Linked DNA regions of Homo sapiens. The protein of the gene in region 2 purifies or fractionates together with the protein of the main gene of each other region. This does not show direct contact. Each region holds a gene or a part of one and is shown on either strand. Other genes may lie near its edges. The genes, in order: ACACB and NPAP1.

The links.
Region 1: the proteins of NPAP1 (region 2) and ACACB purify together in Homo sapiens (affinity purification with mass spectrometry; one large-scale study listed by BioGRID and IntAct). This does not show direct contact.

The regions. Positions count from the first base shown.
Region 1 is NC_000012.12:109,231,295-109,235,107, reverse strand, and holds part of ACACB (acetyl-CoA carboxylase 2), read right to left. Parts: intron 2,440-3,813; coding exon 2,302-2,439; intron 1,361-2,301; coding exon 1,261-1,360; intron 1,171-1,260; coding exon 1,063-1,170; intron 1-1,062. UniProt on the Homo sapiens protein: Mitochondrial enzyme that catalyzes the carboxylation of acetyl-CoA to malonyl-CoA and plays a central role in fatty acid metabolism.
Region 2 is NC_000015.10:24,674,070-24,677,982, reverse strand, and holds the start of NPAP1 (nuclear pore-associated protein 1), read right to left. Parts: upstream 2,209-3,913; 5' UTR 2,116-2,208; coding exon 1-2,115. UniProt on the Homo sapiens protein: May be involved in spermatogenesis.

The DNA.
Region 1 (3,813 bases), on a different chromosome or scaffold from region 2:
TGCCTAGGGCTGTGGTGGGGAGAGGGTTTTTGGGTTGGGGACAGAGGGGAGTGACTGCTAACAGGTACAGGGTTTTTCTATGGAGTGATGAGAATGTCCTAAAATTGATTCTGGTGATGGTTGTACAACCTGGTGAATATACTAAAAATATATTAAATTGTACACTTTTTTTCTTATTTCTTCTAAAAAAAAAAACAGGATACATGTGCAGAACGTGCAGGCTTGTTACACAGGTATATATGTGCCATGGTGGTTTGCTGCACCTACCGACCTGTCCTCTAAGTTCCCTCCCCTCGGCCCCCACCCCCCGACAGGCCCCGGTGTGCGTTGTTACCCTCCCTCTGCCCATGTGTTCTCAATGTTCAGCTCCCACTTATGAGTGAGCACATGCGGTGTTTGGTTTTCTGTTCTTGTGTTAGTTTGCTGAGGATGATGGCTTCCAGCTTCATCCATGTCCCCGCAAAGGACATGATCTCATTCTTTTTTATGGCTGCAAAACTGCACACTTTAAATGGGTGAATTGTGTAGTATGTCAATGATGTCTCAATAAAGCTGTTATTAAAAAGATAATTAAAAAATATCACATTGTATACTGTAAATATATATAATTTTTTTTGAGACAGGGTCTCGCTCTGTCCCCCAGGCTGAAATACAATGGCATCACAGGCTTACAGAGCAACCTGCTGTTATTGGCACACTTGGTCATCAATGTAAGTAGCCATTTTAAAACTGCCAGTTTCTGGATTATTCCAACAAAAACACTCCCAGAAAATCTCCAAACTATTTATTGGGTGTGCCCTCCGTACCTGGGACTGGCTAAGCCGTGTATATACTTTGTCATTGAATCATTGCAACACCGTGAGCGAGAGAAATGCTGACCCCACGTTCAGCCACATCTGCCCAAGGTCGCCAGCTATGAGGCGAGCAGAGCTAGAGTGGGAAGCCAGGTCTGTGGCTCTGAAGTACTCAGCACGCCTGCCTCCCCAAGGGCCGCCTCGACGAGCCCAGCCCCTCCTCCTTCTCCAAGAACCCCCACCAAAACCAGAGGCACGCCCAGAGTACCTTGGACTGTACGAATGTCCGTAAAATCGGCACCAGTGCCTCATCCTCCAGGTGGTCTGCACACTGGATGGACACATTCAGAATGTGGATGGGCTCTTCTCTGAGGCTCTGAGAGGGAGAAGCAAGGGGTAGGGCTGGAAAGCCTGGGGGCCACGGCCCACCTGCTCCCCAGGTTGCTCCCTGGGCTTAGACGCTTACCTTGCAGTCATCCTCGGAGTATAGGGAGGTGCGGGCCTCGCTGAAGAGGGGGGTGTCTTTGGGCACGTTGGCGAAGCAAGAGATGACTTCATCAAAATTTCTGGGGGTGCGGGTAGAGAGGGAGGGCTGAGGGGCTGCTGACCCATGGGGATGAGGTCAAGCTTCCAAGCCAGGCAGCAGGGAACGCCAGACCCTCCCAATTTCCCAGCCAACACCCTTTGATCTTATCCAACTCTACAGAGCTCAGGAGGTTCCCTGTCTACTTTGTCCAGAGCACCCGTGATGGGGTCCTTCCCAAAAGGGAAGAATGAACCTAAGTGATCTGTGATCAGGAATACAGGGAAGGATTCCAGCGCTTTCAGGCATCAGCTGGGCTTGAGATCAACTCTTGGCTCCCATTTTTACTGGCTGGGAGATCCTAGAAACCTCACCTCACCCCGAGTCAAAGAAAGGTAATAAGAGTAATCCCTATGCCTCATGAGGCTGTTGTGAAAATTCCACAAGATACTCCAAGCACAAAGCAGAACACACAGTGAAAGGCTGAAAAAAGACTATAACAGTAACTATTGAGAGCTAACATTTAGTCACTATATTATCTGCATACTAATTATACTTTAAATATGTTATTTCACATATGTTATCTCATTTAATTCTCATGGCGCACCTATGAAGTGAGTCCTTTATTATTCCCATTTTACAGATAAGAAAACGAAGGTATGGAGAGGTAAAAATATTTTGCTCAGTCTCTTAGTTAGAAAGCACATAGCCAGAATTCAAACCAGGCAAGCTGACACGCAGGCTCACACTCTTGGCTACGATGCTCTTATTATTCTGTTGTTATTGATGTGCTGTGCCAGGCAAGCTGACATGTAGGCTCATACTCTTGGCTACAATGCTATTATTATTCTGTTGTTATTGACATGCTGTGCCACGTGTCTGGGTCTCTCCCACCCCATCTGTCCAGTGAATTGGGGGGGGATTCAAGGGAAGTCTGCCCAGCCCCCATGCTCAGGGTGTTGGAGACCGGGCCATGCTGGGTACCTGGTGAAGTCCTCGAATCTCCTGAAGGCTACCATGGCTCCCATGCGCTGGCACAGTGGGGAGAAGCCGCTGTCCATGAAGAGCTCTGTGCTGTGCCTCAGCAGGTCAGGGTTGGTGATGCTGATGGGCACGGTCATCCTGTAAGGTGATGGCAAGTCGGGGATGAGGCAGCTGCTTGCAGACCCAACTCTACGAGCTGCTCCTACTCCTGAAGCTTCAGTGAGCTGGACCAGATTTAGAGCTCTTCCAAATGGGGGCTTAAAATGGGCAGGGGATGAGACAATGGCTGGGGCCGGGGCCTGAGGAGGGTCTCATCTGATCCCTCAGGACCTGGTGAAGAGTAAGAGCTCAACAAGTGTAGGAATCAATGATTCATGCATGAGAGTCCAGTCTCAACACAGTCCCGAGGGGAGCCCCAAGTGCTGAACTTGACCACAGAGAAGAAACACTCCCAGCATCAATTTCTCCTGGAGAAATCCACCAGCCCCAGGCAGCTGGTGAGGCAGTCAGGCTTGGTCCTGACGGACACTCCAGTCCTCTGCTCCCTGTAATCCCTCCATCAAACTTGCCCTTGGGACAAAGTCAGCAGCCTTCTGGAGTTTAGACAACGATGCTCCCAGAACTGGCTGCTCACCAGCAGCAAATCTCAATGGGCCACCTGAGGTTGTTAGAATTGGGCCTTGGAATCAGATACGGGAGGGGTAATGAAATGGTGTGCAGGAAGTCAGCACAGCAGGCCCCACACTGCTCTTCTGAGAAAGGAGACCTGCTTGCTTGCAAGGACAGCCCTTGGCTGGCCTCTGGGAACTTGGACTTGGGGAAGGTTCCTATCGTTCCCTGAAGGTGACAAGGGGGGCTCACTGTGCCTCAACTGTTTGCACAAACAGTGTGGTTTATGCTGAACACCTGCTTTCTTCTGCAAGCCTGAGATTTCGATGCAGAGCAGAGGGTGATGTGACCAGCCACCAATCCCTGGTGCGGGGCTGGAAGACAACCCTTCACTTGTGTTGTCACAACTCCTTGCTGGGGGAATGAAGTGCACCCTGCGTGAATCCACTGGGAGAGGACCCTGGCAGCACACCTGCTTTCCTCTGGACTTCACCCTGATGCCTTCTGCCTTGGCTAACTGCTTTGTATCCTTGCCCCCTAATAAGTCAGAGCTATAAGCATGACTATGTCCCGAGACCTGTGAGTTCTCCTAGGCGATGATCGAACCTGGGGGTGCTTTTGGGGACCCTGACACAGGTGTGTGCATTCCTGTTGGGTGCTCTGAAATCACGATCATGGCCCCTCTGCTCCCCGACAGCTCAATCCAGGGGTCACAAACTTGCAGTGGCAGTGTGGCTGAATGCCACTCACAGAATGACTTTGGTCCATGCAGCATTTTAATAACATACATGAATTAACATGTGTTCATGTATTCATTTAACATGAATTACCTGTCCCCATTGAAAAATGGAAGGACTTCAGGTTAAAAAAAAATAGATTTCCTGCTTCTGCTGGAAAAAATCA
Region 2 (3,913 bases):
AGGAGGAGTGGTATGCATAGCATTGGTTTCAATGGGAGGTTTGGATGATGATGCTGTAGAGGCACTGTTCACTAAAGTGGAGGTGTCTGGAGGAGGAATGATGGGAAGGCTCAGGAAAACACAGGCACTGGGGAGAGAAGCTTTCTGCGGCTGCCCATCAGGAGCCTCAAATTTGGGCTGAGGGGTGGCTTCTTTTCCAAAGAGTTGGTTAAAACTTGGGGTGGTATTGTGGAATATAAATGGAAGTGGGGATGTGTAGACTGATGTCTTTCCCGGGTGCCTCTGCTCTGCACTGCAATGTATTTGGGAATTTGGGAGAGAGCTCACTCTGGAGCTTAGGGAAGATGTGAAAATAACAACCTGAGATGGGGCAGTAGTATCCATATTAACTACTTCAGGGTCTACCGCAGTCTGTGAGGTTAGGTGGGCAGATGCGTTTGTTGTGACAGTGGAAATGACTGACGTGGAATTCATAGGCTTGCTGGTGATAACTGAGGTCCCGGTGGAAGGGACTGGAAGAAGAGTCAGGAAGGAAAGAGGAGGAGGGGAATCCACACACATAGATATTGGGGACTCCCTTGTGACGGGAGGCTTGAAGGAGGGTGTGGAGCTAGGAGGTGTTGGGGGGTCAGAAGTGAGAGGCGCTGCTCCTACGACTGAATTATAAGAGCCTCCTTTCTCATTAGACTGATCACCCAAAATGGGAACAAGGTCAGCAGGAAGAGCCAGAGGAGAGTTAGGGATTGTGAATGCTATTTTCTCATCCATTTTTGGTGTGGTGGAAAGTGGAGGGATAGGCAGGATGAGGGGTCCAGTAGCCAGGTCAGCCAAGTCAGGGATGGGCAAAGGAGCTGAGACCTGGGAAGTGTAAGTGGTCAGGGGCAGGGAGTCTGTGGTCTGCACAGGTTGGGAGAAAGAAGGGGCAGGCTGGGTGATGCTGCTGTTTGTCATGGTCTCTGTTTTATCCTCCAAGATTCTGCTATTCCTTTTATACTCAGGGCTCTTCTCCAAGGTGTGTAGGTCTCCCTCAACAGACAGGCAGGGGAGCTTAGCAGGTGGGGGAAGCTCACCTCGATCCCACAGCAATGGCAGTGAAGGGGGCAGCGGCAGCAGCAATGGAATCGACATTTTCCTTTTGCAGGGCCTGTTGCGGGCAGCTCTGGGAGGAGCAGCGCTCCTTGGAGGAATACAGAAAGGCTTCTCATCAGGCATCCTCTTTCCGGACATCAGCGGAATCGGCAAGCCTAGGGAGCTGGGCGGTGGCTCTTCATTCAGCACTTCCGCAGCCAACTTCTGCTGCAGCAGGGAGCAGCCAACGGCTGGCTCAGGGGGCGCTGTTGCATCCGGATCAGGCTTTCCAAGATGCCGGGCACATCCGGCCTGGCTGTGTGTGCTGGGCATGGCAGGGCCTTCCAAGCAGGAGCTCGCTGGAGACGCCTGGGCCTTCTCACTCATGCTGTTTTCTGAGAACTTGTGGTAGACATTTCCCTCCAGAGGCCCAGGGCTGCATCTGAAGGAGGCCACGTCTCCCTGGGTGCCCTGGGACCTGGATGTGGACGATGCTTCTCCGCTGCTAAGGGGGGTCCTTTTCTCGTCATCCTCCCCTTCGATCTGCACCGGATCCTCATCCTTCTTCACTCTTCTGGGCCCTTCTTGGGCCCACACCTCGGTCTCCTCCAGGAGAGTGGCTGGGATGGGCTTCCTGGCCTTGACCGCCGGCTCACGTGGTGAAGGCAGCAGGAGAGTGAACATGCGGCTGGGAGGAGGGATCCTTACGGAACTGGGGTGTCCAAACCTCGGGGGGTTCCGAGCAGGCAGCATGGGTGTCTTCCTGATGGCCAGCCCCCAACCCACAGCCGGCAGGACCCCCAGAGGGGCGGCCGCAGCCCGAGGGAGAGGACACGGCCTCTTAGGGGCGACGAAGATGCTGGCTGCTGAAGGCCTGCGACGGGCGTTCCGGCGGAACAGGCCGCGGAAAGGGCGCGGGGTGGGTACAGAGTGAGCCCGACCGGGCGGGGAGGCGTCCCGGGACAGGGGAGCGGGGGCGCCACGCCCTGGCCCTGGCAGGGGCCGGCGGCGGCACCCGGGTCTAAATTTACTAAGTAAATTGCCCATTTAGAGCTAGCCGTGCCTCCTACCGTAAAACAGGGTCAGCAGTGGACTCAACTCTCCTCAGCCACCGCCTCCTCTGGCGACCAAGCACAAACTGACTGGCTCTACGCCTGCGACGCCGCCGCGAGGTTCCTCACAGAACCAGGGAGCGCCAGCGGGGGCGCAAAAGGCAGGGGTCAGAGGGCAAAGGGCGACGCCCCGTCGGCCCCAGCTGCCCCAGGACCCCCGGAAGCCCCGCTGCCGGTGGCAGGTGTTGCACCGCGTGGCCTCTATGAGGGAACTGCTGGGGCCTGCGGGCCCATCGCCAGAGCTCTTGTCACCTGGGCGCCGGCTCTGCCTGTTCCTTAGCCCTGGCCCGGCGCTGTTGCACGCAGTGGCCCTGTGTCGGCCGTCCCCATTCCCCGGTTCACAGAGGGCACATCTGCTTCAAGTTAAGCACAGGACAACCTATATCCTGCCAGCCTCCTCTAGGACCTTGGCAGTGCTCTGTGCTGCCTGGAGCCAGGTGTGCCGTCTCTGTGGCGCCAGGGTCACCAGCCAGGCCGTGAGGGTTTCCGAGGAGGGGACGTGGTGCCTTGTCCTGACTAGATGCTACGCCCTACCACATCTCTTCCTGGCAGGCAGGGCCTCTTCACTTCTTTTCACAAATTTGTTTTAAACAACATTTAAGGCTGGGCGCGGTGGCTCACGCCTTTAATCCCAGCACTTTGGGAGGCCAAGGCGGGTGGATCACCTGAGGTCAGGAGTTCGAGACCAGCCTGACCACCATGGTGAAACCCCATCTCTACTAAAAATACAAAAATTAACTGAGCGTGGTGGCACGCACTTGTAATCCCAGCTACTAGGGAGGCTGAGGCAGGAGAATCGCTTGAAAGCGGGAGGTGGAGGTTGCAGTGAGCTGAGATCACCTCACTGCACTCCAGCCTGGGGGAACAGAGCAAAACTCTTGTCTCAAACAAAAACAAAAACAAAAAACCACAACAAACAACAGCAACAACATTTAAGCCTTAGGCTGCTTGCTCCTTGGGTCATTGATATGACAGTGGCCTAGCCAGGCTTCGAACCTGGGCTGTGTGATTCCAGAGCTGGTGCCGTGGCCTGTGTGCCTCCTTGTTATGGACACATCATGTATTCTCATTATTTCCTGTAGTCCTTAGGGTACCTAGCACACAGCACATCTGTATTAAGCACATGCGTTCCTAGGGGGAAGCCCTTACTTCACCTCATAAGTTGGTCATGGCAGGCACTGGGCTCCAGTCTCCTCTGAAGACATGGGGCAGCGACCCCCAATAGTCAGCAAAGCAGCATCCCACACTGTTCTTCTAATTGAGCCTTGCAGCCCAGATTTCCTTTTTGGTCTAGTTTGAAGGATCTAAATATGTAAAGATTATAGTCCAGATCCATTTTGGCCTATCCCGAAAGAAATTCACCAGTGGATTAATCCAAATGGATAAGCCAGTTCTCTGGCCTTCTTGGAATATGTTAGAAAGCAAATTCATCATGTATTTGCAAGTCAGTAGTGGAGCAATGTATTCGATTAAAATATGATCAATACAATTTGGTCATTGTCCGCATGCCAGCAAGGCCCACTCTTTACCACACATTACTGTCACCTAAGTATAACTATCCATATTCTTATGCCCAAGGAAGGAGACTTAATATTGGTTTTTAGGACAAAGGAAATATGTGTTACTGTTTTAAGAGCTGGAAGTTTCAGCATGACAAGAAAGATTTGGAAAATCCTACACATGACCTTATCTAGTTTTAATCTTGTTTCTTTGGTTTATTTAACTGGACTGCT